Regions from separate parts of the Homo sapiens genome. Here region 1 is linked to region 2. Evidence: fine-mapped expression QTL. A gene starts in region 2. The other region holds a variant in brackets. All regions are shown on one strand. Distances are between the middles of the regions.

Region 1 (15,670 bases), 35 kb before region 2:
GTTGAAGGTTGACTATCCTCACTGCCTGATAATCTGATGTGCTCATCTCCCCAGGAAAGACAAACTGCTACATGGCCCTGATGAATACTTCCATTGGCTGCTGGGTACTCACCTTCCTGAAGAGGACCTGGCTAAGCAAGGTAATATTTGGGTTTTAGGCTTCTTTTTTTCTCTGGTTTCTTGGTTGATATTTTAATTGACAGAGTTTTCTTTATCTATGTCAGTGCCTCTAGGCAGACAATGATGTCTTATTCACTAGAAAGATTTTTCCTAAGCAGAAGTTGCCAAAATATGACAAACTAGGGGAAAAAGTTATGACTTGGGAAGGCATGATAAAAGGGTAATTTTCTTAATTTATAAAAGGATCTTATAAATTAACAAAAAAATAGATAAGTTGATTCAAATCAGAAGGGAAAAAAGATATGCAAACAGCCAATTAGACTCATGAATCCTCAACCTTTGATATGGTTTGGATCTGTGTCCCCAACCAAATCTCATGTTCAATTGCAACCCTCAGTGTTGGAGTTAAGGCCTGCTGGGAGGTGATTGGATCATGGGGCTGGTTTCTCATGGTTTAATACCATTCCCCTTGGTGCTATCATCCTGAGAGTGAGTTCTCATGAGATCTGGCTGTTTAAAAGCATGTGGAACCTCCCCCCTCTCTCTGGGTCCTGCTCCTATCATGTAAGACATCCACTGCTGCTTTGTCTTCCACCATGAGTAAAAGCTCCCTGAGGTCTCCCAGAAGCAGAAGCCGCCGTTCTTCCTGTACAGACTGCAGAACTATGAGCCAATTAAACATTTTTTCTTGATAAATGACCCAGCTTCAGGTATTTCATTATAGCAGTGTGAGAATGGACTAATACAGCCTCTCATCACCCCTCACTAATTCTACAAATGAAGATGCTGGGCTGCAAATGTACACATTACTGATAAGGAATTTCCCTGCTCCCCTGAAGGCACCCCCAACCCCAGCATTGGTGAAGCTTAAACAGGGCAGGCTATGATAGATAATGGCTGGTGAAGACAGCAAAGACTTGGCAGCACTCACCATGGCAAAGTTCCTCACTTGATGTCTATCCCCATCATTTTGCACATGAGGAGGTGGAAGCATGGAAAGGTCAAGTTACCCATCTATCTAGGTAACTATTTCTTCTTTGATGTCTCAAAGATACCTCTCACTCGCTGTTCACAATAGGCTCATCATCTTTTTTCCCAGACTATCTTCTTCTCTTGAATTCTCTTTTTTTTTTTTTTGAGACGGAGTCTCTCTCTGTCGCCCAGGCTGGAGTGCAGTGGCGCGATCTCGGCTCACTGAAAGCTCCGCCTCCTGGGTTCACACCATTCTCCTGCCTCAGCCTCCCAAGTAGCTGGGACTACAGATGCCCACCACCATGCCTGGCTAATTTTTTGTATTTTTAGTAGAGACGGGGTTTCACTATGTGAGCCAGGATGGTCTCGATATCCTGACCTCCTGATCCGCCCACCTCGGCCTCCCAAAGTGCTGGGATTACAGGTGTGAGCCACTGTGCCCAGCTTCTCTTGAATTCTTAATCTCTGAGAATGGTACCCCCATCCCACCCCAGACTTTTATGCCACAGAGCCAGGAGGCCCCGTGGGCTCTTCCTCTCCCTCTGGCTCTGTGTTCTGTCATCACTATCTCTTGTTAATTCTGTCCCCTGACCATCTCTCCTAACCACATGTCTATCTCCAGCCCCACTGTTATTTTTCCTTGATTTGGAATTACATCAGCCTGAACTAGGGCATTTGCAACTCATCTAACCATCTTTGGTGTTACTCTTTCTCAGAGCAGCCAGAATGGCCTTCCTAGCACCCAAGTCTAATCATGCCAGACTGTTGTTCAGAATTCTGAGGTGTCTCCACATTAAGTAGAGATAAGATGCCTGTTGATCTGACCTCTGCCCACCTGTCCTGCCTCAACTCCCGCCACCTGCTGCATGCACAGGTACATCCTAATACAGCTGGATTGCTGGTGGTTGCCCAAACATGCCACACTCTCTTGTTCCTTCCATTTTTTCAGGCTATTGCACGTGCTGCTCCTTTTGCCCAGAATCCTCTCCTTTACCCATCTCCAAGCCCCTCCTCATGTTCAAGTCTCAGCTCCAAAGCTCCGCCCTCTGAAAACAGCACTGTCCTGAGATTCAGCTGCTCTTTTGCCTCTGCATCCTCTGCATCTTGACCTTGCTTCTCCTCTGACATTATCCTCTAGACTTGCAGGGGAGGTGTCAGTCTTCTGGGGAGTCAGTGAACTGGATGGAAGGGCAGCTTCTTCTAAACTTTAAATCCCCAGTGCCAATCTAGGACGAAGCCTGGTGAATGATCAATATCTATGTGGTGAAAGAAAGAGATGATTAATCAATAAGACATTTGCCCTGTCTGGGAGCTCACGTATAGCGAGGCGATGGCTTTGTAAGCCCCTCACTCTGACAGCAGGCTTGTGGGCAGGGAGGACTCTGACCCTCCTCAGGAGTTGGGAGAGGCAAAGGGGGTCAGCTACAAGTGTACACACATCACATTCACCACACCATGCTTAAAAAACAAATCCATAAGTCGCAGCTGCCAAGCATGATGTAAATGTATGGGGATTGAGGGACTAATTCTGCTGGCCTGAGGTTTTTTCCTGGGTGGGGAGAGATTCAGGCCCTGTTTTGTCTTTCACTTTTCACAAGGAACAGCCAAAGGGAACCTGGCTCCTCTGGTTCTCCATCCTTCCCGGAGTCTCTTCCCACACTCCAGAACGGGCCCCTTTCTCTGGAGGTGGCCAGCCCAGATTTGGGGGGTGGCCCACTGGTTGGCCTCCTTAAACTTTCCTAGAACTGTGCCACAGTTTAAGGGACAAACTTTTGAAAAACAGAACAACAACAAAAAACTTGAAAGACTTCAAACCTTAATTTGTCTGAGAAAATCCACTGTTAACCCAATAGCTTGCTTGAATGGAGGTGTTAAAGATCAACAAAGCCAGACATTAGTTAAACCATGAAAACAGATTTTACTCAGTAACTACTTACAGTAGGAGAAAAAGCTGATCATTCTCATTTGTGCATAGCAGAATGGGCGTTTTAAAGGGTGAAGGAGAGAATAGGGCCGGGAAGCTAGCAGGGGATCAAGTGAAAAATCATGAAGGGGCGGTCAGTATTAATGACGGGCAGCTGTGCCTGGAGCTGGCCGTTATGAAGCTGGGATTCTATCCTCCCACAGAGACTGGGGGACAGAGGCCTATCCTCCCCATGACTGCATTTCAGAGCAATGGCTTTCAGGTCCTTGAGAAAGACACTTCTGAGGTGTAGGCGATACATATACATCTCAAAGCAACAGAGAAAGGATTCACAGTTGTAAGCCCTTTTAAGAAAATATCCTAAAAAAGGGAGGTCAGGGGCTTTACCATCGGGTGTTGGCTAGAATAAACGGGGAATTCTCCTGGCTGCCTTGAGCTTTCTCGGGAAGACATTTTACTGGGGTCGAGGTTAGGCGGCAGCGGAGGGTGGGGGACCTTGAGTCATGCTCCTATAAGCCACGCTAGAGTTCCTCGTCTTTGAGTGCAGAGGTTTAGACTGTGTCTTTGTGTGCAGAAAGTCCTGCAGTTCTCACAGCGACCTGCCAGAAAAAGTCGTTCCCAAATGTTTGTAAATCCTCCGTTGGGCAACCCGCCTTCACGTTCTGCGGTGATCTTGTCGAGCGACTAAGCGTGCAGTATTAGCAGAGAAGGGGGTGGCAGAGTGCTGGCGCTGAAGGTCATGTTGCATGGGTAACTGTCGTGTTGTAGGGGCGGGGAAGAGGGAGGAGACACTGACCACCCCAGAGGCCGCCCCATTAGCTCGCTTGCTTTGGGCGGCGTCGCTCCCACGGCGCCCAGGGTACCCCCGCCGCTGTCTGCCTGTCTTCCTCCATTACCGCGCAGGCTTGGTCACCGCATTAAGGCATTCCCGCTCTCCGCGGAACTGCTCTGCCGTCTCGGCGGTGAAAGTGTGAGAGGGTCCGTAGTTGGGTCAACTTTGACTCCTCTCGCCTGCCCGGATCCTTAAGGGCCTCCTCGTCCTCCCGGTCTCCGGTCGCTGCCGGGTCTGTGCGCCGGTCCGCGCCCGCCCTCGCTCTGCCATGGGCGCTTCCAGCTCCTCCGCGCTGGCCCGCCTCGGCCTCCCAGCCCGGCCCTGGCCCAGGTGGCTCGGGGTCGCCGCGCTAGGACTGGCCGCCGTGGCCCTGGGGACTGTCGCCTGGCGCCGCGCATGGCCCAGGCGGCGCCGGCGGCTGCAGCAGGTGGGCACCGTGGCGAAGCTCTGGATCTACCCGGTGAAATCCTGCAAAGGGGTGCCGGTGAGCGAGGCTGAGTGCACGGCCATGGGGCTGCGCAGCGGCAACCTGCGGGACAGGTACAGCACAGCGCGGGCGCGGGGCAGCGCGGAGCCTGCCTGGGATGAGGAGCGGGGGGGCAGGTGGGGCCCGATCTATCTGGGAAGGACTATAGAGGTTTGCCACCTGAGTTTCTGGGCTGACTGTTGGGCCGTTGGTCGTTTATCTGGGAAGGCCAAGTTCATGCCAGGTTTATTTTTGGTAAAGTAGGTAGGGGCAATCCCTTGCCCTTCCCTAGACGAGAGATTCCTCCTCTGTAACAGGAGGGGGTCTGACCTGTATCTCCAAGTCTCCTTAGCTCTAAAGTTTGTGATTCTATCCTAGTATACCAAAGTAGAAAAATAAAGCTATTGGCACTAGAAAGCAGCAAGAAAGAAACCAAGTGTTGTTCAAGGACATTGGCTTAGGCCTTGCTGGGCCTTGTTCCTCACATTTCTCCAATCCTGGGGGTGCCCTGGAGGCCTGATACACTTTGATGAAGGATGAGCAAGTGGCATGGGGACTCTGGGGCAGAGGTGATACTTGCCATTAAGGGAATAGTGTCCCCCCTTCTCCCATAGGCAGAGTTGTTCACAGCCTGGAACTTTGGGACTTTTGGGCCTGACACATAGACATTTCATACTTAGGATTAAGATGCCTTCTTCTTTTTTTTTTTTTTTTTTTTTGAGACAGAATCTCACTTCGTAGCTCAGGCTGGAGTGCAGTGGCACTATCTCAGCTCACTGCAACCTCCATCTCCCAAGTTCAAGCAATTCTCCTGCCTCAGCCTCCCAAGTAGCTGAGATTACAGGTGTGCGCCACCACGCCCGGCTAATTTTTGTATTTTTAGTAGAAACGGGGTTTCACTCTGTTGACCAGGCTGGTCTCAAACTCCTGACCTCAGGGAATCCACCAGCCTCGGCCTCCTAAAGTGCTGGGATTACAGGTGTGAGCCACTGTGCCCAGCCAAGATGTCTTCTTATCTGGCCGAGATGGTTTAGCTGTGGGCCTGTGTCCGAGGGGAGGGAGGTTTGCAAGTTGATCATTCAAGGATTCCTCTAGCAGAGAGCCACCTGCATCCCTGTGTTCACTCCAGGACACGCGGATGCACTGTTTTCTGAAGACTGCTGCCCTCTTAAAGAAATGTGGACTTCCATGGTGTTGGAAAACTTCAGAGAGTCTTAGAGAAGTGTTGTGTACACAGACCATATGAATCATGGGAGGATTTTCATTCTCCCACCCTTACCCCAGATTTCTTATCCTGGAGAGCTTTTTCAACTATAACTTCCTGAGATTCCCATCCCAGGACTACGGAAGCAGAATCACCAAGAGTGGGGCCAACTCGTGTAGAATGTTTAAATCTCCCCCTGGTGATTTTGATGCTATAATTAAAGGATTTTATCCGAGACCATGAAGAAGAAGAGGATGTTTAGAGCTTATTCAAATATGAAGGATAAGAAAAGCCTTCCTATTACTGGAAAGACTTCAGGCTGTGTGGGACTGGACACCTTCCAAAAAACTGGGAGAACCAAATTCTCACGATGCATGTCCAGAGAAAATTAGTGTTGCAGGCTAGGTTGCACTACTTCCTTCCTCGCTTGAAGGGTTGGTTTCACAGACAGTTTCCAGTTCTAATCTGCGTTTCCTCTGATCACCTGAAGAACGGTTTCTTTCCCACTTCTCTTTGTCACTGCTTTGCCATGACTACTGCAACCATGGAAAGAAAATACGTGTCCTTTGCCTGTGCTTTTTGCTCCCACTGGCATCCTAAAATAAATACAACTGTATTACCTTTCCCTTGTTTTAAACAATAAACGCTTAGGATGGGGTGGGGTGATGTGAAGCCTGGGGTAGAGGGAAAGGCAATGAAATTAATGTTATTCAGTGTTAAAATGCAGCAGACACTGAGCTAAATCCTGTCGCATAGATTAGCATATTTAAACCTCATAACAATCTTGTGGGCTAGATAGTATTATCACCATTTTGCAAATAAGGAAACAGTATCAGAATGAAGGAGTATCCCATCCAAGGCCAGAAAACCAGTGTGTGCTGTGGGGATGTGAACTCAGATCTGTGTGAGTACAGAACTTATGCTGTTTGTATGAAACCAGTGCATGATATAAAACTATAAGGATTGCACTGAGGATCAGGAGACTTTGGGCGAACTTCTACAAAGTTGTCTCATTTGCAAAAGAATGAGGTTGAACTTCATGGTCTCTAAAGCCCCATTTTAACTACATTTTATTTATCAAAGCATAATTAACAATTTGAAAGCAGGCTTGCTGGAGAGAACTCTGTTTGATAGCCGCTGTCTTCTCCACCTGACAATTTAATAACACTACTACAAATGTTCCTAGAGTTCAGGGAAAGGCCTCATTTAATGAATTCCATTCTGAACCTGTGTCTTTGGAACTAACTGTTCCAAGGAGCTGGGATTTTCCTCTGGAAGTGCTCTGGGTCTCAAATTTCTAAAGGTATTTTGTTCAAAGCTCTTAGTATACTTGTGAACACTTGGCTTGAGCACCCTAAGCATTGAGTGTTTAAAGTCCACCTGGCAGAATGCTGGCATTCGGTGCCTGGTGCAGTTGCTGGGAGGGCGTGCTTGTCCTCCCTGACCTTGGAAATCTCTGCTCTCCTTAGCAGCCATATGTGAGTTGATCAGTTTTATCTCTCTAAACCCTTACTGAAGCCAGTCCTTTATTTCTTCTGCACAAATGATGAACTGTTGGAGAAAGGAATCCCTTAAGTTTATTATTGTCCAGGGTGTTATTCCCTGCCCAATTCCTGCTGTTTTTCTCCTCCCACACTCAGTAGTAGAGTTCCTGCTTTCCCTCACTTTTCAGTCCTTCCTGCTCCCCAGGCCAGTTTGTAATTGAGAAATGATATTTTTTTCTGTTGTTTTGGGCTCCACTTACC[C/T]GTTGCTGTTGGTTGTTCGGGGCTCTATAGCTCTTTTGGGGAATCGGGGCTCCAGGCTTCTACACTGATCCCTCTACCACATACTCATGTTTTACCTGTGAATTCAAGGTGCTGGCTTTTAGTGTTGCAGACTAGGTTGGGGTAACTTGGTTATGATGAAATCTATGCTCCAGACTTATCTCTTCTTTCAGATCTGGCAGAATAGAACTAGTTATTCATTCACTGGGCATCATTTTGTGCACAAGAGGTGAAAAATAATATTGCCCAGGTTGACAGGGAAATGAGATGGTTGGGGTATGTTACAAATGGTAACCTTTTAACCTGTGATTGCTGTATTTGTCCTGTTCCAAAATTGGACTCCCTGTAAGTTGCCAGTTTTTCAGTGACAGTGATGAGTGGGAAACCTCTAGTGACAACTTCCCACTGTTAACCTCAGCAGTTAACACCTGTATTATTATACAACAGTCTGGAGCCACAGGCCAGGCTGTGAGCCACGGTGAAGGGCGACATTAATAAGGGATGAATGGGAGATGAGAAGATTCAGCCCATGGAGAAATAATGTCAGAAATAATGTGCAAACAGGTTTGCCACTCCTGTTTGGACATGGCTCTGGTTGTGTGCAGATCTCAAAGGGAGTCTTGTCTGGGGAAGGGGCATGTTGGAAGTTAAGGGTGAAGGCTTTAGTGAGGCTAACCAAAGAAATGTGCACCAAGGGACAAGGCTGGAAATAGGGAATAGGGCCCAGCCCTGTGAGGCATCTAAGTCAGTGGATGCCTGCCTATTTCACTGTAGCCCCATTCTCTGGGCAGACATCCTCAGATTTACAGAACCCAGCCCCAGGATGAGTGAGCCAGAGAACTGTGGGATCTAAAGACATCTTTGACCAGGCAGGATGGCTCACATCTGTAATCTCAGCACTTTGGGAGGCCAAGGAGGGAGGATTAATTGAGCCAGGAGTTCCAGACCAGCCAGGAGGTCCAGACCACAGTGGGACCCCATCTCTACAAAAAATAAAAAGATCAGTTGGGCGTGGTGGTGTGTGCCTGTAGTCCCAGCTACTCAGGAGACTGAGGCAGGAGGATCGCTTGAGCCCAGCAGTTCAAGGCTGCCATGAGCTAAGATCACGCCGCTGTACTCCAGAGCCTGGGTGATAGAGTGAGACCCTGTCTCCCTCTCTCTTGATATTAATTAAGTATAAATATATATAAATGAATAAATAATACACATATGCATATATACACTTAGGAAATGGTGGGCTGGGCACGGTGGCTCACGCCTGTAATCCCAACACTTTGGGAGGCCGAGGTGGGCAGATCATGAGATCAGGAGATCGAGACCATCCTGGCTAACACGGTGAAACCCTGTCTCTACTAAAAAAAAAAAAAAAAAAATACAAAAAATTAGCCGGGCATGGTGGCGGGTGCCTGTAGTCCCAGCTACATGGGAGGCTGAGGCAGGAGAATGGTGTGAACCCAGGAGGTGGAGCTTGCAGTTAGCCGAGATCGTGCCACTGCACTCCAGCCTGGGTGACAGAGTGAGACTCCGTCTCAGAAAAAAAGAAAAAAAAAAGAAAGAAAGAAAAAGGTGGTCTCCTCAGTGGGGTGGGGACTTGCTGCTACCCAGTGTCACCAGCTTTTTGGAAGCAGGTAGTCAAGACAGTTACTGGAATGCCTTTACACTGCCACACCATCATAATGCCAGTTAGCAGAGCACAGGCTGCCAGCCATTGTCTTCTGGTGTGGTTGCGGGGAAGGGACAGTTTAGCCAGCACCTGGAAAGGACTTTACGGATAAGGAGGTTGCAGATGTAAGACTATCTGTCAGGGTCAGGACAGGGCAGAGACGGAGCTCCCTGTGCTGGGATATTGGATGTCCTCCTGAGGTCTCCTCAGCCTTTCCCTGATGGCTCTGGTCATATTTTGGAATGTCTCCCTGGGAGGAGCCGCCCCTGCTTCTGGAAGGGGCTGTGCTTTTTATCCTCCTCACATTTGGAAAGCCTCTGGCTTTCAGACAATTTTTACTTATCAGTGCCTGCATTTTCCTCACCCGCTAGTCTGCAGATTCTATCTTCTTTCTAAAATAGTGATATTGGGCTAGGCACAGTGGCTCATGCCTATAATCCCAGTACTTTGGGAGGCTGAGGCGGCAGGTCACTTGAGGCCATGAGTTCAAGACCAGCCCAGCCAACATAGCGAAACCCCATCTCTACTAAAAGTACAAAAATTAGCTGGGCGTGGTGGTACACACCTGTAATCCCAGCTACCCGGGAGGCTAAGGCAAGAGAATCACTTGAACCAAGGAGGTGGAGGTTGCAGTGAGCTAGACTGTACCACTGCACTCCAGCCTGGCTGACAGAGTGAGACTCTGTCTCAAACGAAATGAAACAAAACAACTAAACGAAACAAAACAAAATGAAACTAAACTGTGATATTGAAATTTATTTTCCCTAGGAGTGGAAGATTTTTTTCTTTTTGGCAACACAGTCTTTTGTGTGGTACAGCCCCAACCTATATGCTAGGCTGTAGGTAAAAGCCTAACCAACTGGGCCTGGCCAGCTTCCCCTCACTCTTCAGCTCATCCCATAGAAATACAAAGTAAGAAAACCAAGTCCAGTACAGTGGGCTCTCTAGGAAATAAGTGGGATTCTTATCTAACATGTGACTTCTGTGTGTCTTTGTTCTCTATGTCAGAATGTGTGCATGAAGAGGAAAGGCTGTTTGGGAGGTTTCCTGATGTAGGACCCCCGCATGCCGCGGCAAGTTAAACAGAGCAGAGGCTGGCCTGGTTCCGCTTGGAGGCAGCAACATTGCAAGACCTTTGTCTCAGACTCAAACTCACTTGGCCAACCTCATCTTGTTCTACAACAAAAGGACCTGAAAGCTATTTTACTTCTCCCAGGGCCACAGAGACATATTTAACAGACCTGCAGAAGCTTCTAACCAAAGCAGAACCCCCAGACAAGCAGCAGGGTTGACTAAGCAGTGAGGGAGAGTCTCTGAGCCAGGCTCATGTTCTTGTTTTTGAAACTGGAGATTGCCATACATCAGCCAGACACTCTCCCAGAACTGTTTCCGCCAAATAAGCTCTTTCTGGGGTCACCAACTTTTAGACCCAAATCATTTGGCCAGACCTGGATAATTGTCTGGAAAATGATTGTTAGGTCCCAAGACGGGGTGGGTGGAGAGTTCTGAGGAAGTAGAAAGCTGGAGGGAAGCTGTTGGGAGGTGGAAGAGGATTTTCTGAGTGTGCCCTGGTTTGTTTCTCTGCAGGTTTTGGCTGGTGATTAAGGAAGATGGACACATGGTCACTGCCCGACAGGAGCCTCGCCTCGTGCTCATCTCCATCATTTATGAGAATAACTGCCTGATCTTCAGGGCTCCAGACATGGACCAGCTGGTTTTGCCTAGCAAGCAGCCTTCCTCAAACAAACTCCACAACTGCAGGTGTTCCGCTTGGGGGCATCCACAGAACTGCAACAGGCTTGGTTTCTCTTCAGGCTCCTCCTTGCATTCTGTCTTGCTATAGTTTCTACAGTAGAGGATGACATTGGTAAAGGAAACATTTAAGAGAAGTGCAGTTTGAGTTGGGATTGGGCATGAGTGGATGATGCAGGGTATTGTTTTCAGGGTACCTAGGATTTGTTTTAATCAGGTATGGTTAGACACGCAGACATAGAAATGACTGTCCTGAAAAAAGAAGATGTTATACCAACAGATTCTCTAGAAACTGGAGGCACGCTACGCCACGCAAGGCCAAGTGGGGGAGTACCAGGGTGGGTCAGGAGGCAGAGGGAGCAGGGGGAACATGTGGGCAAGGGCTTTTATTGTGGTTTCCACAGGAAAGGAGAAGCAAGGCAGGGGCGGCAGGCTTAGGGCTGGCTAGTTTGAACAATTTCAGCAGGCTCTGGGTCACAGGTTGTCTGGTACTTGGCTCTAGGGTTGACTAGGGCATGGGACTAGTGGCCCGGCATGTAAGCACCAAATAAAGGAGGTGACTGGGAGTGCAGACTCTGGATGGGTTGGTGTTCCTATTACAGGCACACTTGCAGGTCATCAGTCTATTATTTCTAGGAATTGGTCAGCCCTGGAAGAAGCAGTTTCTTCAGTGTCAACAAGGCTCCAAGATGTCAAAGCGTAAAACATGCAGAAAATTAAAAGCAGGATTACTACAAGTATAAAGGTGGTACAATGTGCTCATCTTTAGGGCTTTTCTCCTTTCATTCAAATCTTCATTCAGAATTGTCAACTCTCCAACCAGGCAGACAAGGGAGTTAGTGGAGACTTTAGCAGCTGTATCTCAGGGCTGGGTGAGAAGGATGCTGGAGCTTCCAGAGCTTTTCAAGTTGACTCTGCGGCCTCTGAAGTGTGTGGTTGAGATGAAGACATATTCCTTGGGTGTAAGGGATTTCCACTTCTGGCCAAAGACACACCTCAGGCCTTGGCTTCCTTTTGGCCTATGGGACTTCTGTTGGGTTGTCAAGTTCCGTGGTTTGCTGGGGTCTTGTCCTTCCACATTAAGAAGACTTAGATGCTTGTCATGGGATGAACTGGATCCCTTGTCACCAACTGAGCTTGTTAAGTGTGTGGAAGTTGGTGTTGTCCCAGGGCTCAGAGGGGAGCCTCAGATTACTCCGTGAACTCTCATCTTACGCTTTTTCAAGCAAAGCGTCTAAGCTGAAATCCACAACTCATGGTTCCCAATTTTCAAAAGTCTGAAGCAATAATTCACTGAATTCAGTATTTCAGGTAATTATCTTAGCAAGCCCATGAGGGGGTCATTAATTCCACTTTACAAACGAGGAAACCACGTCTTAGATCACTGCCACGAAAACACAGAGCTGGGATTTGAACCCACTTCCCTCCTAAGGCTTTTGCCTTTAACGTGTTTGTGTAGGGAGAAGAAAAGCTTTTCCATAAATGACAGGTTTTGAGCCCATCAGTTCATTGAAGAGGAAGTGTGTAGCCATCTCGGCTTAATTGGAAGACATGTGAAGGTGATGGGTAAATACGTAGCTGACATGTGTCACATGAGTAATATAGGTGTTGCCCTGTAGACTCACTGTGTTGCCAACAGTGAGCAAGTTTTTCCCCCAAGGCTCTTTACCAGCTAAATAGGCAGAAATCTAGGGGGACACTCACCTTCCTGGATGGAAAGAGGGAAAGAGGAAGACCTTGCAGGTGAGTTGCCTGGGTCTGAAAAAGACAGCAATTGCAGCCTATTCTTTTTTATTTATTTATTTTTTGAGACGGAGTTTTGCTCTTGTTGCCCAGCCTGGAGTGCAATGGCACGATCTTGGCTCACTGCAACCTCCACCTCCCAGGTTCAAGCGATTCTCCTGCCCCAGCCTCCTGAGTAGCTGGGATTAGAGGCATGTGCCATGACGCCCAGCTAATTTTGTATTTTTAGTAGAAATGGGGTTTCACCATGTTGGCCAGGCTGGTTTCGAACTCCTGACCTCAGGTGATCCACCTGCCTTGGCCTCCCAGACTTCTGGGATTGCAGGCATGAGCCACCGTGCTCAGCCTGAAGCCTCTTCTTATGTAATTCTGTTCCATGCATGAATTGTAGATCTGGATGAGGTGGGAATAGAGAGCCTGGAACCCTGGCAGTTTGGTGAAAATGATTGAGAGCTGTGCATTTGGATTGATGCAGAGGTGTAGTCAGCGCACTGCCCTCTCTAGCTGGTTAGACATGCTGTAACTAGTTCAGCCTGTATTTATAAGCTATTTTTAATGGATTCGTTGCCAAGGGAACTGCTAAAAACTGAAGAAATAACATAGATAGTGTGTTTAGCTAGTGCCAGCTGCTGTGACAAAATACCATAGTCTGGGTGGCTTAAACAACTGACATTTATTTCTCATAGTTTGGGAGGATGGGAAGTCTAAGATCGAGGTGCTGGTAGATTGGTGAGGTCCCTTTTCAGGGCTGTAGATGGCCACTTCTCGTTATGTCCTCACATGACCTTCCCTGGTGCCTGCATGAAGAGAGAAAGCAATCTTGTGTTTCTTCCTCTTATAAGGGTGCCAATCCCAGCATGAGGGCTCCACCTCATCTAACCCTAATTACCTCCCATAGGCCCCACATTGGGGGTGAGGGTGTCAACAAAGGAATTCTGGGGAGACACAAACATTTAGCCCCTAACAGATGGTAAGCGACAGAGTGATTACCACAGCCAGCCCACCAGAGCCCAGAATCAAATAACATAAACCAACAACCTCAAGTTAGTAAAAAGAAAAGTCCCTTCACAGACATTTGGACAAGGCTGAAGTGTTATGAATTTTATATTATTCTACACTTATTTTATTTTATTATTATTATTATTTTTGAGATGGAGTCTCGCTCTGTCACCCGGGCTGGAGTGCAGTGGCGCGATCTCAACTCGCTGTAACCTCTGCCTCCTGGGTTCAAGTGATTCTCCTGCCTCAGCCTCCTGAGTAGCTGGGACTACAGGCGCACGCCACCACGCCCAGCTAATTTTTGTATTTTTAGCAGAGACGGGATTTCACCATGTTGGCTACCATGGTCTCGATCTCCTGACCTTGTGATCCACCCGCCTCGGCTTCCCAAAGTGCAGGGATTACAGGCATGAGCCACCACGCCCGGCCACTTATTTTTTTTAAACTTTCACTGTTAGTGTTTTGAATCAGCTTTCCCTGTTCACCTTGTGTGGTGTTAAGTTTTTTTATACTAATTATAGACCAGTATGGCTTCTTGATTATCACAAGTATTTATGAATAATTATTACCTTTTTTTTTTTTTGAGATGGAGTTTCGCTCTTGTTGCCCGGGCTAGAGTGCGATGGCACGATCTCAGCTCACTGCAACCTCCATCTCCCAGGCTCAAGTGATTCTCCTGCCTCAGCCTCCTGAGTAGCTGGGACTACAGGCATGCACCACCACACCCGGCTAATTTTTGTATTTTAGTAGAGGTGGGGTTTCACCATGTTGGCCAGGTTGTTCTCGAACTCCTGACCTCAAAGTATCCACCTGCCTTGGCCTCCCAAAGTGCTGGGATTACAGGCATCAGCCACCGTGCACGGCCTGATTATTGTCTTAAAAGGTGAAGCTAATGTTTTAAAGTAGGGGGAAGTAAGACATGACTTCAACCCTATATTGAATTTGTGGTTCAATTTACAGAAAATTGATGTGAAAATATGTGTGTGTGTGTGTGTGTCTGGGTGTGTGTGTGTGTGTATTAAATAAAGCACTTGCAAGAGGACCTGGTATACAGTAAGCACTTAACTGGATATTAGGTCTTAAATAGCTATTATCTTTATTGTATTAATCCACCTTATCTATGAATATTATTTTTCTTCACTTGTTTGTGTCTTATCTCTTTAATAAAGTTTTATAATTTTATCTGTAATGTGATTTTACATGTTTTGTTAGATTTAGTCCTAAACATTTACTCTTTTCTTCCACTTTTACATAGCAAGTCTTAAAAACACTTTTTTTGTTTGCTGTGTAAGATTGGTATTATTTATTCTTTAATTATTGATAGAACTTGCCAGTAAAAGTATCTGGATTTTCTTTGTAAGAGTCTATTCAAGTTTTTATGTCCTCTTACATAATTTTTAGTGAGTTACTTTTGATTAGTGAGTTAAGAGATTGCTTACTAATGAAGTTTTATTGAACCCAGAGTGAGGGTCAGTTTTTTCTATGGAATGTTGCTGATGAGACATTTTGTGTCAAAATGTAGAAGAGAGTGGACTTTGCAGAAAATTCTGCAAGAATTGGAGAAGATGGCATGGCAGAGGGAGCGATACCATCCAGTGCAGGGATGGGAGACAGGGCTGGTGGAGGGATGCCTTCCATCGGGGGGAAGGGGCTCCGGTTAATCAGTATTCCATTGCCCTGTTGGGGGCTTTTCTGCTTTTCAAAGTGCCACCCATAAGCTTTCCCGGGTGGGTGGAGACTGTGAGTAATATGTGTGCACTTATGTACAAGTGCTGTTCTGAGGGGATGAGGGAAGAGCTCCATCCAGGAGCATGTACTTAGGGAACTGCTGAACAGTGGGATGGAATCAGTTTTAGGGGAAAGGCAGAAGGCCAGGAGAGGATCATGAGATGTCTGTAGAGCCAAGAATTAATCAGAGGTGAAACAGTGGCTTCGAGAAGGGGGTTTAGAGGGAAGGAAAAGGCCCAAGAAATGTGAAAGGAACAGCACTGAGATTTGACAGTAGATAGGAGAGGAGGTGAGAGGTTGGGAGTCTCTACCCTCAGACCAGGATTGTGAGTTGCAGGGTACACAGGGGTTCATCTAACTGGGAGCACCTCAGGTGTCCACATTGAAATCCTTCACATGCATCGCCTCAGGAGTCCTCACACTGGTATGAGCCTTCCCACGGGGAGGGGCAAGCCCTTCCCATGGTAGATGAGGGTAGGGGAATCAATTTCCAGATCCTGTGAA
Region 2 (15,670 bases):
TCCCACGTTCAAGGGTGGGAAGGCAAGGCACAGTCAGTGGCAGTGGGATCAGGACCCCATTAGCAGGCTGCCTGTCTGTGAAGGTGGCAGCAATGAATGTGTGAATCATGACTGCCTTCTCTTGGGTGATGTCCCCACTCTTCAAAGAACCTTCAGATTGTAACTTGGGTTCCACTGCAGCTTAGCTACAAGGGAAGTGTGGGTTTGTCTTGCAAGTTACACATTTCTCATTGTATATCTACACATTGACTTTCCTGTTAATTTATGACTCTCATGGCAAACTGCACTCTATAGAAGATCTGTCATCCCTGCGATGATGGAATCAGGGTTTTGAGACTGGGAGTCAAGAGGTGGACCTGAACTTGCCAGCATTCTGCCTCCCTTTGAGTCCTCTGGGAGATATTTCTTGGTGTCACCTTGTGCTGCTTTCTTCTGCTATAATAGTTTCATACTTAATATGAGCCAAAGAATAAACAGACTCAAAGGCTAATGAAGCCACCATTTAAAAGATAACTTTCTCTTTTCTCTTAGGATACCTGGGATGAACTCCTAATTGGTAGTGTAGAAGTGAAAAAGGTAATGGCATGCCCCAGGTAAGGAGCCTAGCTAGACCCCAGGACTGTGGTGTGGCCCATTCATTGGTTCCTAAGCATCACCTAACCCTTGGTTACTGCATAACAGGTGTATTTTGACAACGGTGGACCCAGACACTGGAGTCATAGACAGGAAACAGCCACTGGACACCCTGAAGAGGTAGAATACCACCACAGCCAGTGTATTTTAAATATTATCTCCACCCCAGAACTACCTATGGGTTTAGGTGCTATGTCTGCTTTAGGGAAGATATGACCTTTCTCTCCGGAGAACCTTCCAGTCTACCTTCTGACTGATTCGCGTCTATTGGTTAATGAGAGCACTGTTGCTTCCTCTCTTTTTCTGGATGGATCCTCTAGTGCTTTGGATAAACTTTTTTTTTTTTTTTTTTGAGAGGAGCCTCACTCTGTCCCCCAGGCTGGAGTGCAGTGGCGTGATCTTAGCTCACTGCAACCTCCACTTTCTGGGTTCAAGTGATCCTGCCTCAGCCTCCTGAGTAGCTGGGACTACAGGTGTGTGCCACCATGCCTGGGTGATTATTGTTATTTTTAGCAGAGACAGGGTTTCACCATGTTGGCCAGGCTGGTCTCAAACTCCTTGCCTCAGTGATTCGCCTGCCTCCCAACATGCTGGGATTACAGGCATGAGCCACCATACCCAGCTTTGATAAACTTTTAATTCTATAATACTACATTTTGAAATTTTAGTATCTCTCATATCAATTTTTAATACTATTTATATATGTCTTTCCAAATGTAGGCCTTAAACACTTTATTTAATCATGTTTATTGCAACTCAAATTCCTTTATTAGAATCAATATCAAGGAATATGAGAATAATTGAAACTGCATAATGAAATATTAGAAAAAAATGAATGTAATGAGTTGTCAGAGCTTTTTTACCAAGGAGCTTCTTTTATGCTAAGGATTTCTCTTTTGTTTTGTTATTTAAAGAAGTTTGGCTGACTTTAGTTCCCAACGAAGATAGTGATTTAGGCTTAACATTCTTTGGAGCTGTATTCTATTTTGTTTCTCTTTCCTCTGTTTTGTGGATTGTTTCCAATGGGTTTAGCTTAGAAAAGAGGTTATTTCATGATGACTTCAGATTTACAATTCTATTTTGTTTTTGATTTTTAAGATGTAGTGATAATTATTTAAGATGCTGTGAAAGTTATTGTTTTCTTTAGACAGGACACTGGAAAAAGATTAACATCTGCAGTAGTCCAGACCCATCTGCCAACTTCATGTCTGTCTGAATTTTTGTTCACCAGTGAACCCCAGCTTTGGGCTCATAAACCTGGAGGGGGTTGAAAGCATGGTGCTTAAATGCACTAAACAGAAGATTTGTAGAGTTCAGGGCCATTCCATTTTGAGTTTTAGGGGCATTTGTTTCAATGAGTTGTGAAGTTGAAGGTACCCATATAGACAAAGTATTTATTTTATACTTACACATAAGTTTTTTTCTTTTTGGACTTAAACTGAAGCCATGGAGAAATTGCGTAGACTTTCAGGATACTTCTAGAAAAACTAGAATTATTTGCAGTTTGACTAATTGTCCACAGACTTCTCTCGCAACATTTTAGAAAATTCTTGCTGTGTATTTATAAATAACTTGGAAGGCAAACTTGAGTTCTATTGAGAATACTTCGATTATTATTTCCTTTTTGTGTCTGATGATTGAATTTTTGCTTGTTTCAGCTACCGCCTGTGTGATCCTTCTGAGAGGGAATTGTACAAGTTGTCTCCACTTTTTGGGATCTATTATTCAGTGGAAAAAATTGGAAGCCTGAGAGTTGGTGACCCTGTGTATCGGATGGTGTAGTGATGAGTGATGGATCCACTAGGGTGATATGGTAAAGGGTCAGCTTTGCTTCTGAATACGCTGTCTTGAAGCCATTGCTGCATTTTCTTGTGTTAATTTTTTTTATGTTATGCTGCTTTAATTCTTGAGAGAATGAACAGTTTTATATTCTGATCTTTGGAGTTGGAAAATGCCCTTAATTTCTGTTCCCTGCAGTAATTTGTGTACTCCTACCTCAGCCTTCTCCACCCCTATTTCCCATTTAATGGTAAAATGCTGATGGAAGAGGCTCAGCAGAAAGACAGGTATATGTTCACAGCTCATTACAGAATATCATTAAGGAATAGGGAAATGAAGGTGATTGATTCTCAGAGTTATGTACATTCTCAGAGTTATGTATTTATTTTTTCTGTCTCAGATAGAAGGGAAAATGTTTAAATTATTCAACATCAGCTTGGGAAATGTTTAAATTGAATGTCTTTTATCAAATGTATTTTTAAAGTATAATTGAAGTTTGAAAAAAAATCAGTGCATCATGGTGACTGGGTCCTGAATCATGAGTTAGAAAATAATGTTCTCACATTGATTTCATTGTGTCCAATACAGCCCTCACTCCTGGAGGCAAAAGCCTAACTCCCAAATTAAAGGAATGAGAAAGTTGGACAGAGGACCTCAAATTGGAGATTTTAAGCAAGTTTTCTCATAAAATCCATGACCCAGTTCTTTAAGTTACCTCATCTCCAAAACTCTTGACCATCCTTCTCTCTGATTCTGGCCTGAGCTTCTCACGTGTGTTACTTGCCTTTGTAGTCTTGACACCCACAACCTGACCCTCCTTAAGGACAGTGTAACACAGTGGCTTAGAAGGTGTAGATCTAGCATTAGATAGACTTGGGTTTGTAATCCAAGCATCTTCCTAACTTGGTTGAGATGTTTAACTTCTCTTTAAGTCTCAGTACCCTTATCTGCAAAGTGGGAATAATAGTACTTACCAAAACAAGCAATAAAAGTTATCTTGAGTATTAATTCATATAAAGTTGCGCTGCAACACAAATAAAGTGCTCAGTAAATATCAGTTATGTTTTTTATTGCCATCATTCCATCATGATCCAGTCTTAGGTTCCATAGTGGGTATAAAGATGACACAGGCTTTGCCTTTGAGGTGGGCAAAAAGGAGCTACACTTCTATTGATGACTGTTATGACTAGGTATTTGCATAACCATAACCATATTTCATAACATATTTCATCCGTTCTGAGATCCTATTCTAACATCTCTGATATCAGTCAGCTTCTTATAACATTCAGGATGCCTTTTGAAAAATATCAGTGATGCATAAAATTATCAGTGATGCATATAATAATGGTGCATCTTACAATTGGTATATCTTGGATTTGATGAAATACAATAAGTATTAATACTAGAGGGGAAACTGTGAAGCTCCTAAGTACCTGGCATTTCTAAAAGCCCCATTTGGGGAGAGTGGACCCAAGCCTGAGCCATCTAGCTTGAGTGAAACTGATCCTGTGTCCTGCTGTTCCAGTCATGATTGACTGGACCTGGATCATTGTGTGAGCCAAGGGCTTTCATGTGTTCTCTGCATCTGAGGGAGCCCAATGGCTGTGAGATACCATAACGATTGAGGGTTTTCCATATCACTCCGTCACAAACTCATCCAATCAGATCCTGTTTTGCAGTGGATGGAGGCAACAAACATCTGTGGTTCACTCAGCCTCAATTTCCAATTGTCTCTGCTGCCCAGAAGGCCTTGTGTAATCTTTATCTGTGAGAGGATCTCTGTGAGATAGATATGATAACAGGCACTTTATGGATGAGAAACAAAGGCTTAGATAGGTCAGCTGACGTAGGGCCTGGGAGCTGATGTGAGTTAGAGCTAATGGGCCATGCTTTCTGCACAGCACTGCACCATACATTTATATGTGTAACCTCAATAAGTGACTGTTTTGTGGGAGTTTGAATTATTTATGAACAGTAGGATAAACAACCAAATAACCAGAGATTCTTATTATTTATTCAGGCTTCAGCAACCAGGAGGGATTGACTGAGATCTTAACAACAGCAGCAACGATACATCAGCAAATCCTTATTATCCAGCCTTCAACTATCTTTACCCTGGAAAACAATCTCGATTTTTGACTTTTCAAAGTTGTGTATGCTCCAGGTTAATGCAAGGAAAGTATTAGAGGGGGGAATATGAAAGTATATATATAAATTTTAGGTACTGAAGGCTTTAAAAATAATTAAGATCATCAAAAATGCTATTTTGAATGTTATCATGGCTATTACACTTTTACTTCCTGACTTTAATATTGATGAATAAAGCAAGTTTAATGAATCAACTAAAAAGCTGCAAAAATGTTTTTAAAATGTGTGCCTTTTATTACCTATCAGTCTATGTTTTGGGAGAAATGGGAAGCAACAGATCACTGTGTCCTGATGTGCAGGACGCATGTTACCACACTCACAAATGCCTAATATTGGTCTTTATGTGGCCATTGAGTCCTGTTGACTTTCCACTCATGTGCTTTTTACTCTAGCATTATGGAATCTGGGCTGTACTTGAGTATGGAAATTCTCTTATAGACTTAGTTTTAGTACTCTATTACACCTTTACTAAGCCACATAAAAGTAATCTGTTTGTGTGTAACTGCCAGATATACCACCTGGAATTCCAAGTAAGATAAGGAAGAGGATGACATTTAAAAGAGAATGGAATTTTGAGAGTAGGAATGCAAGGAAGACAGCATGAACATATTTTTTTCAGTGCAAATAATTTTTTCGTAACAAAGAAACGAACAACTTTGGTATGATCTTAAGCAAAAATACTCACTGAAATAGTATGTGGATGAATTCACCTACTTACAATTTTATGGTTTCTTTGTAAATAATAAATGTGAATCTCAATCCTGCTTTATCTTTGGTATTTATGAGTCTTCTTCCTGGGTTTTTCTCTTTATATTAGAATTTGAGTCACTGCAATTTATTTTTCCTTACCCTTTCTGATTGCCTCCAGAGATACAATCTGACTCCACAAACACTGGCTTCTGTCATTGGCAGGGGGCGAGGGCGTTGTGAGCTGCAGGCACACAGGTGGCCTGTCTGTGGCAGGATGGCCAGTGTCCGCAAGGGGCCTTCCTAGTGGTCAGTGAGGAGTGGCTGTTCCCTCCTCCTCCATTTTCCTTTGCTGGGTTCTGGGACTGAAATTCACCACCATTCCCCGCACCCTGTGAGGTAAAAGTGGTAAGTGAGCTGTAGGCCTGGGTAAATTCTGGAAGTGATGAAATTGAAAAATCAGAACTTCAAAGTCAGCCATTAAAATAGGGAAGCCATTTTTTCCTCTTAAATTTTCAAAGAGGAATTCAGGAGGGAGATAAACAGAAACGCACATTTGGTGCCCCGGAACTGCCTTTCCGAGGAGGATCAAGTCGTGCCTCCTGCTGAGCTGTGTCCTTTACAGACAAGGTGTGACCTGGGGTTGGAAGAGAAGAGAATAGAGCAGAAAAACAGGACAGATAAGTGTTCAGGCCAATAAAGACAGAGCCTCCCTGAGCACTGAACTGCTCTGCAGTGAGTTGCCAGCTGGAGGAAGAGTGTTGTTCTTTTCTCTTGGCGAACTCCCGCTTCTCATCCATGCACCCTTGCCCTGCATGGGCAATTCTGGCTGAGTCTTGCAATGTACACTCCTGGCTCAGGGGACCATGGCTGAGCTGGGGATAACACAGACTCTCCTTGACCAAACTTCGGACTCTCCTGTGCCCTTTTCTTCATGAGGCCTTGACCTTGCCACCCTACTCCCTGCAGAGCCCAGTTTAGCAAGAATCCTGCTTAGTCAGTTTCCAGAGTATTCTCCCATCCTTAATATCTGATCACCCTTGATGTCTGCTCAGATTCCTCATATGTCACCCTCAGTGTGTAAGTCCTTGCCTTGTTCAGTAGAATCCTGTTAAGTGGGTTTATCAAGAATCCTCTACACTTGATGTCTCCGCTTAGTGATTTTCCATTCACTGACCCCGAGGAACTTCGCTCCTTGGCTATGAATCCTGAGCTGTCTTTGCTGTAATACAGAGTTGAGCCTAATCTCTTTCCCCTATTGTGATGCCCCTGTTACAGTAGCCTTGAATAGTCTTCCTTACCTTTTTAACAAGCGTCTGAGGGAATTTTTTTCCTTTAATAGCTTGGTACATCAAGCAGGAGCCTGACTCCTAAACCACGCTGTTCGGGGTATGCTAACATTGTTGTCTGGAATATAACCTGATTTGGAAGTGACAAGTGACTGAGGTGAGTGCCTGCAGGACCAAGTGACTTTCCCTCCCGCCGGAAGCAGCCCGGGGACCTTGTGCAGCGTTAAACTGAGCCAAGGCCCTTGCCAATGCAGCTCCAGCTCGAGGCTCCCCGCCGGTAGGAGTCGAGCGTCCCCGAGCCGTGTAGAAGGCACTCTCAGACGCCCATTGCCGCTCCCAGGGGCCGCCGGGAGAACTCTGGCCTTGGCTCGCCGGCGCGGAGGGCCTGGTAGCATCCTCCTTCATCAGACCCCCACTCTCTGGAAGCTCCTAGCCCCTGGGCAGACTGAGGGGAGGGCGGCGGCAGCAGAGAGCTGGACACTGCACAGGCCAGGCAGGGCCTACCAGCTCTCCACTATTCCCAGGAGAGGCTGCTGCCAGCTGTCTGATTTCTAATTTCAAAATCACGCTTTGTCCTGCAAATGTTGTATATTGTTTATTTTAGGTCAAATAACCCCATAAATACGTAAGTAAATAAATTGGTCACTTGCAGCGATCGTGGGGTGGGGGAGGGCACAGCGCCCTGCAGCGCAGGCGACGGAAGGTTGCAGAGGCAGTGGGGCGCCGACCAAGTGGAAGCTGAGCCACCACCTCCCACTCCCCGCGCCGCCCCCCAGAAGGACGCACTGCTCTGATTGGCCCGGAAGGGTTCAGGAGCTGCCCAGCCTTTGGGCTCGGGGCCAAAGGCCGCACCTTCCCCCAGCGGCCCCGGGCGACCAGCGCGCTCCGGCCTTGCCGCCGCCACCTCGCGGAGAAGCCAGCCATGGGCGCCGCCGGCTCCTCCGCGCTGGCGCGCTTTGTCCTCCTCGCGCAATCCCGGCCCGGGTGGCTCGGGGTTGCCGCGCTGGGCCTGACCGCGGTGGCGCTGGGGGCTGTCGCCTGGCGCCGCGCATGGCCCACGCGGCGCCGGCGGCTGCTGCAGCAGGTGGGCACAGTGGCGCAGCTCTGGATCTACCCTGTGAAATCCTGCAAGGGGGTGCCGGTGAGCGAGGCGGAGTGCACGGCCATGGGGCTGCGCAGCGGCAACCTGCGGGACAGGTACGGCCAAGCGCCGGCGCGGGGCAGCGCTGATCCGGCTCGGGGCAAGGGGGTGAGAAGGGAGGAGCGCAGGGGAGGTCTGCAGAGTCTGCTAACAGGTCCTTCCTCCTATTACAAAGAAACTGGGAGTTGGGTGAGACAAGGCCAAAGAGAAAAAGGAACCCTCACCCCCCAGCATCAGACCCCAGGGCTCTGGGACTCTGAGCGCGTGGACCCGTTTTCCCGGGGTGGGCGGATCTCCACCTCCCACTGGCTCTTTGGCGTCATGTGCTCCTGCTGAGGTGTGGTATCGCTCCCAGGTGTCTGCCAGTGAGCAAACTTCTTAATCTCCATTTAGTGGAGGCGGCTAGCTTGAAGAGGTTGGTTCCCAGTCGCTATTTTGAGTGACTTTCTTGAGATCTTGGAGAAAGCTGAACTGTAGAGTCCAGCCCTCCAAGAGCGCACCAAGGCGGAGCTCATAATAGTAATGACAGCAGTTCAACGAATACCTTCGGGCGCGGTGGCTCACGCTTGTAATCCCAGCACTTTGGGAGGCCGAGGCGGGTGCATTACCTGAGGTCAGGAGTTCGAGACCAGCCTGACCAACATGGTGAAACCGCGTCTCTACTAAAAACAAACAAACAAACAAAAAAACAAAAATTAGCCGGGCGTAGTGGCGCGCACCTGTAATCCCAGCTACTCAGGAGGCTGAGGCAGGAGAATAGCTTGAACCCGGGAGGTGGAAGTTGCAGTGAGCCAGGATTGCGCCACTGCACTCCAGCCTGGGCAACAGAGCGAGACTCCGAATCAAAAAAAGAAAGAAAGAAAGAAAGAGTTGTGGGGGCATTGCAGATGCTATTTTCCCCAATTCTCTCCAATGCTCTCAAGCACTCTTGTGGATAAAGAAGTTGAATTCAGAGCCACACAGCAGCAGAACCAGGACTCTTATTTTCTTTAGCACACTGGGGCTTTGTAAAGAGTGACTTTGTTAATGTCCTGTCTGGGTTCTGAGAGCTGCGTGGATTCCTGGGGTTCAGCGAAGGCTGCAAAACCCGGGAGCCGGCAGCTTTGTCCTCTTTAGGGTCTGGCTTCAGGCCAGCCTCGGGTCTTATTGTGAGGCTGCACTTGAAACTCCTTTCCAGAGCAGCCCTCGCAGTTCAGCAAGTAACACAGGACTAATGGGAGCTGTAACCTTTCTCCTACCAGCTCCCCAGACAGAGGGCAATTCATGACATAGTTGAAAGGTGAGTGACGTATGCATCTTTGCTTCAGGAAGGAAGCCAAGAATCCTAAATATTCCATGTTTTGGGCCAGGCGCGGTGGCTCACTTCTGTAATCCCAGCACTTTGGGAGGCCGAGGCGGGTGGATCACAAGGTCAGGAGATTGAGACCATCCTGGCTAACAGGGTGAAACCCCTTCTCTACTAAAAAATACAAAAAATTAGCCGGGCTTGGTGGTGGGCGCCTGTAGTCCCAGCTACTCGGGAGACTGAGGCAGGAGAATGGCGTGAACCCGGGAGGCGGAGCTTGCAGAGCTCCACTGTGGCAGAGATCTCGCCACTGCACTCCAGTCTGAGCGACAGAGTGAGACTAAGTCTCAAAAAAAAAAAAAATCCATGTTTCGTATAGTAGGCTCTGAAAAGTGGTAGAGTTTTTGTAGGCCCCAGAGGCAAAGGGCACTGGAATTTTACTACTTAGATTCAAAAAGCAGTTTTTGAGCTCATATTACAATAGATGACAAGAAGAGCTGGCCTTTGTACCAGACACTATGATAAATTCTTTATTTTCGTTCATCACACACTCCCAGAAAGTGTGATCAAAAGAAGCCAACACTGGCTTACAGTCCTAGGTTGTGACTAGACTAAACAGAGGTTGTGACACGTGCCAGGGTGCCAGCATAGAGGATGCGACACGTGCCAGGGTGCCAGCATAGAGGATGCAGTGCTGGAAGCTGGCTGGGGCCGTCAGGGACAACATCAGAGAGAAAGTAACAGCTTGAGCTGAAAACTGGAAAACGATTCAGAACTTGCTGGGCAAGTAAATTGGGAGAAGAACTTTCTAGAGAGGGAATAAGCTGGGCAAAGACACTCGGCTTGTGAGGATGGGGTATGCTAGGGGAAAGGCTGGCATAGTCAATGCCAGAGGGGTCCAATCTTTTGGCTTCCCTGGGCCACATTGGAAGAAGAATTGTCTTGGGCCACACATAAAATACACTAACACTAACAACAGCTGATGAGCAAAAACAAAAACAAAAACAAAAAAAATCTCATAATGTTTTAAGAAAGTTTATGAATTTGTGTTGGGCCTCATTCAAAGCTGTCCTGGGCCACGGGTTGGACAAGCTTACTCTAAGGTATTTACCAAAAGGAACTGGGACATAAATAGGATGAATGTTCTTTGCAGCATTGAGTGTTGAATGTTCATTATGATGTTATTCACAGTAGCCAAAAGGTGGAAACAACTAAGTGTCCATTGATGGATGAGTAGATAAGCAAAATGTGGTATATACACACAATGGAATATTATTCAGCCATGAAAAGGAATGAAGTTCTGATATGTGCTACAACATGGATGGCCCTGGAAAACATAATACTAATTGAAATAAGCTAGACACAAAAGGACAAATATTGCATAATTCCAATTATATGAAATGTCTAGTGGATAAATTTATAGAGACAAAGTGGATTAGATGTTACTGGGGGCTGGGGGAAGGGGAAAACGAGGAGTTATTGCTTAATTGGTACAGAGTTTCTGTTTGGGGTGATGAAAAGGTTTTGCAAATAGTGGTGATGGTTGCACAACACTGTGAATGTACTTTACTGCCACTGAATTGCACACTTCAAAATGGTTAAAATCACATTTAAAAAATTCCATTCTCTGTTGATGGACACTCGGGCTGTTACTACTTTTTCAGCATTTTGATTAAAGCTGCAATAAACATTGATACACAAATGTCTGTTTGAGTTCCTGTTTTCAGTTCTTTGGGGTCTATACGTAGGAGTGTGCTAGGTATTTTATGTTTTATATATATTTTACTGCAATTAAAAAATAAATATATAAAAGACTGGCCTGTGTGAAGACCTCGGGAGGTAAGAATGGCTGGAGCAACAGCTGGATCATGAAGGGCTGGGCACGCCCTTGTTTAGGAGTTGGTTTTATCCTGAAAGCAGGAACCATGGAGGGATTTTGAATGAGGGGGTCATAAAGTTAGATTTGCATTTTAGAGCGATGTAAACTGCCATTACCAGGAAGAATATTAGACAGAATATTCACCTGCTAGTCCCAAGGATTTGGGTCAGGGCAGGCCTCTGTCTGTGCAGAAACAAAGTCTGGTAAAAGGGCAGTTACGGAAAGGGCTTATACTAAGCATATTTTTCTAGTGTAGCTGAACAACTCAACCATGATAACCTGCTGGAAGTGATGCAAGAAATATCTTGAACGACCTAAAGTACCGGCCATATTTTTTTCTTATGTCTGGAAATCTCAAAAGCACATGCTCACTTCTATAATTGTAATCATTTGATCAGTGTGTACTGTAAGGATTGAAATGCCAATATGTTTTGCTTCCTTGGTAGCTGAGAGATAACCTGCAAAAACATGTTGTTCTTGTTCTGGAAATGGCTCTTTCTATTACCTTTATTTCTCCATTTATCTTTTTTTCTAGGAAGTACCTGTAGACCAGGAATACTGGGCCAGAAGAAAAAAATACTGTCTAGTTTAGCAAATTGCAGAATGGACAGCACTGAATGTTGGAACATAAAATTTTTAAAAGGTGGGGGGCTGGAACTGGCAGAGTATAAGTGGCACTGTGTGTTGCTCAGCTGAACTCCATGCCCTGTGAACAATATAAGCAACAGTCCTGCTATTTCCACTGACAAGAGCCCGTTGCCTACCAGATGCCAGGCCCTGTGCTTCCTCCTGCCTTTGAGGTCTTCATGTAAAATAGATTCTTGTCATCTGCTTGGGGCATGTTTAATGAAAGTGATCAGGCTTTCTAGAGATTGAGATGAAAATATAATTAACATCTTTGATTTCTGTGCCATCAAAGAGCTCAAACTGTTCTCCAGATATATGTTGGATGCTTGAGTGGTTATGAAATCCTTTGAAATTAAGTGACAGACTCAGTCCTGTGTGCTGATGTTTAGGACAGACAGACACACACACTCAAACTCACACACACCAGGCTTATGGGGAAGAAATCAAAGATGACAACAGTGTCTAATTGAAGCTCCTCCAGGGTCTGGCTTCCTGCCATAATGGTTCACACATATCCTGTGTTTTGAAAACGGCAGGTTTTGGCTTGTGATCAACCAGGAGGGAAACATGGTTACTGCTCGCCAGGAACCTCGCCTGGTCCTGATTTCCCTGACCTGCGATGGTGACACCCTGACTCTCAGTGCAGCCTACACAAAGGACCTACTACTGCCTATCAAAACGCCCACCACAAATGCAGTGCACAAGTGCAGGTAAGGAAAGGGCAGGTCGTAGCCCTTGTGTGAATGAATAGTCATGCAATTTTGAGAAAGCATAAACTCTAGAGGGAATGCTGAGAAACATATCAATAATGAACCGTTGATTGCATGTGTACCATATACAGAATGAAGTCCTCAACATTATGAAGATCTAAAAGAAGGAGAAAGAAGGAAGCAGCTTCAGAAACTTGTGTTGTGGAGATGACAGACATGAAAGTGCTATGTAGAAACCCATGAGAACAAAAGCATATTGACATGTCAGCAAGAGAAAAATAACAGCACCCAAAGATCAAGCACAAAAATGGGGTGGGAGTGGTGGGGGCGAGTGTCCTAGCAGAGGTGAAACTCGATCTACGTATTCTCATAGAACTTTTTCTTCTTGGCTTAGAAAAACTGGGCACCTTCCAAGTCTGAGTTAGGAAAGGAGTTGCAAATGGCTATGTGACCCGTAAGATTTAGTTCTAATGAAAGGAAGTTCCAAAATAGAAAAGAACAACTCTAGCTAGAAGAGTGATCCAGCCAGCGGCTGCCCAGGGGTCAGTGTCAGAATGAGGCTGGGGATGTAACCCAGGAGGATGTTCTGTACACAAGCCCTTCCCTCAACATCAGAAGGGCTGCAATGAAGCAATTCTTCTAGGAAAACTAGTTTTGCCTCCAAGAAGTCATGTCTAGAGTTGATTTCTTATCTGATTATGGGAAAATTAGAGTTGGTCCAGTTATATTCTTGTTATAGTTTCTGCATTTGGAATAAAGATGCAGTGTGAATGTAGTTTATAGCCTATCATAAAAAAATAGCATCACCTCAAAAAATGTAGTTATCTGAACAACGTCTAAAGACCCAGAAAAGTTCACAAAATGCAATACTGATGTAATTTCTACATTTTAGAGTTTTAAACTTGATAATATACTTTTTTGAATTTGGTGGCTTTTCAGATTAGAAAAGTGGTACATATTCATTGTTGAAAATTTGGGAAATACCAAGAAAAAAAAAAAAAAGAAACAAAAACTATCTGTGATAACTAATTAATATTGCAGCATATTTTCTTTCGGTCTCTATGCCTACTACTTAAAAACTAAACTGAAATAATACAAAAAATCCTTTAATATTGTTTATATACTTAAATTGATATGTTGAGTATTTTTTCATATTGTTAAAAAATCTTTAAGGATACCATTTTTCATGTTGGCATAATATTTCATTTTGTGGGTGTCCTCTAATGCATTTTAATATGCCCCATGATTAAACATTTTGATTGTCTTAATTTTTTTCCAGGTATTAAGAAGAATGTGATGAATATCTTGGCATAAATCTTTGTTTATATCATTTGTTGTTTTCTTAGGGAAAAAATTCTAGCAGTGGTTTTGCTTGAAATAAGAATATGGATCCTGTAGGCTTTTGATACACCTTGCTAAATTGTTTGCAGAATGGTTTTACCAATTCCATTTTAACCATTATGTTAAAAAACATTTTGCCATTTTTATGGGCAAAAATGATAATTTCTTGTTAATTTAATTTGTATTTTTCCCTGAATGAGGTAAGCTTTTAAATACTTATATTGCAATCTGTATTTCATGTTTGTCCATGTCTTGATTTGTGTTTATTTGCCATGGTTAGATATTTACCCATATTTTCTTACAGTTAATTTTTTTGTTTAATTTTTAATTCATTTGAAATTGTGTTGAAACTTTTTTCACAGTCCCATATGGGCATTTGGTCCATGCCCAAAAGACTAAACAAGGGCATGCTTGCAAATTGCAAAATGAAAAGGCTTAGACATGCTACGGTAGTATACAGACTCTTCGAGCAAAGATTCCAAGAATCTTCTGGATTCAGGTTTCTTTTGACAGCCCAACCTATTCTCTTATGAGGGAGCTGTAACCTCAGCCCACAGTTTCCTAAAGATTTCGGATGAGTTCTTGGGGCGCTGGGGTCGTGATCACAGGCAGTACACCTGTTTTCATGGTCGAAGATGTTACTTGATTTTCTCACATGCCTTGCCTGCTATTAATAAGATACACAGAATTAGGGACTTTGGCTATGGATTATTCAGACAAACAGCCTCAAACCTCAAACCATCTCAAGCCATGCCTACATTATCTTTGTCAAAGGGTCAAAGGTTATAGGAGCATTTGGAATTTTATTTTAATTCTTCACTTGCACTTTTTGGGACAGTGTGCAGGTGGGGTGCTGGGGCCAAGATACAGCAGAGGCCAATCAGAACTCAGGAGAAATGTGGCAGGAGCAGGAAGAAGGCAGAACAAATTCTACTCGTTGAAAGGCCTCAAGTTCTGGGTGATTATGAACCTGAACCCCAGGATCTAGAAATAGATGTTGCAATGGAAATCAGTGTCAGATTAGCAGGGCAGATGTTTAAATGGCCCAAGATAGATGCAAATGCTTTGACTTTGTAAAAATAATTATTGCCAATTGAAGCCCCAAGGAGTCAAAGCAGCCTTCCTGTCTATATCCTCCACTGTGTGTGCCCTCCCACCCTCCTATAAAAGCAACTAAGGGAAGCCCTGGGCTGCCAAATGGCAAGTTGAGACTGAGAGGGTGCCTTGGTGGGCTGTAAGGGTTTGACTGGAGAAAGGAGGGTGATTTTTTTTTTTTTTCTCATAGGCACCAGCAAAGAGACATCTAACAAGGAGATGACCTTCAAGGCTGTCTCCATACCTAGATATTTGGTAATGCTGGCATTTCACAAGATGCTTCTGAAATTAGCATTTCAGACATTAAACTGCACACACACACACACAGATGCTAAGCCCCCCACATATATTCAGTTCTAGAACTGGTGGATTTGATTTTTTGGGAAAAGTAAAAAATTATTTGGAGCTAAAGCCTGTGAATAAGAAAACGATAGGATCTTTTTTTTTTTTGGTTAAAAAATGAGGTTAGGCTTAAAAGTAGAAATAAGTAGATATGATTAATACTAGGTTAGAATGATTACTTCCCAAGGTGACTGCTCTGAAAGGTAATATCCATTTGGGTGTATAAATTTGGGTATGTTTATTTTATTCATTTTATTTATTTTTCATCTTGATCCAGAAAAGAGTAAGGCAGACACTCCTGGTCTTTGTAAATGGTCTCATTACTTCATAGGCCTTGGGTGCATATTTCAGCCCTCTGATTCTCAGGAGTTAATTTAGAATGGGTGGGGTGACAGTGTGTGAAAAGGTATCAAGTCATATACTACAGCAGTGTACTTTTCTGCATGAGTGTTACGCTTCAATAAAAAGTTTTTAAAAATTTATGAAAACTTTGAATACACCAATCTACTGCTTAATGTAACCCAGACACTGTTAGTAATGACTTCTCATTTTAGATATAAAGCAATAAAATAAAATTATATACAATTATATAGGATACTATACTCAATATATTTTACAATATAAAAATCCATTTATACATTATTATTAGAGAATGGATGCTTTTGTTGGATTAAATGTTTGATTTATGGAGTAACTATACAAAGATAGCTTGAA

Direction of the effects. Alleles are on the strand shown, and positions count from the first base shown. SD is a standard deviation of normalised expression in the study named.
For the expression in fibroblasts of the gene that starts at base 7,427 in region 2, T is the high allele of the variant in region 1 and C is the other (large effect, 1.8 SD a copy in GENCORD).

What was found.
Region 1: its variant is fine-mapped to the expression of MTARC1 in fibroblasts (GENCORD, PIP 0.95).

Annotation. Positions count from the first base shown.
Region 1 is chr1:220,744,416-220,760,085 of GRCh38, forward strand. MTARC2 (mitochondrial amidoxime reducing component 2) reads left to right here and starts at 3,907. Exons shown (of 8, transcript NM_017898.5): 1 at 3,907-4,388; 2 at 10,532-10,705. The coding sequence starts at 4,117. LOC124904516 (a long non-coding RNA gene) reads right to left here and starts at 4,400. Exons shown (of 2, transcript XR_007066884.1): 1 at 3,404-4,400; 2 at 1-2,348. The variant C/T (reference allele first, on the strand shown) is at 7,264.
Region 2 is chr1:220,779,487-220,795,156 of GRCh38, forward strand. MTARC1 (mitochondrial amidoxime reducing component 1) reads left to right here and starts at 7,427. Exons shown (of 7, transcript NM_022746.4): 1 at 7,427-7,733; 2 at 12,005-12,178. The coding sequence starts at 7,459. MTARC2 (mitochondrial amidoxime reducing component 2) reads left to right here. Exons shown (of 8, transcript NM_017898.5): 5 at 532-593; 6 at 682-753; 7 at 2,292-2,446; 8 at 4,433-5,329. The coding sequence ends at 2,415.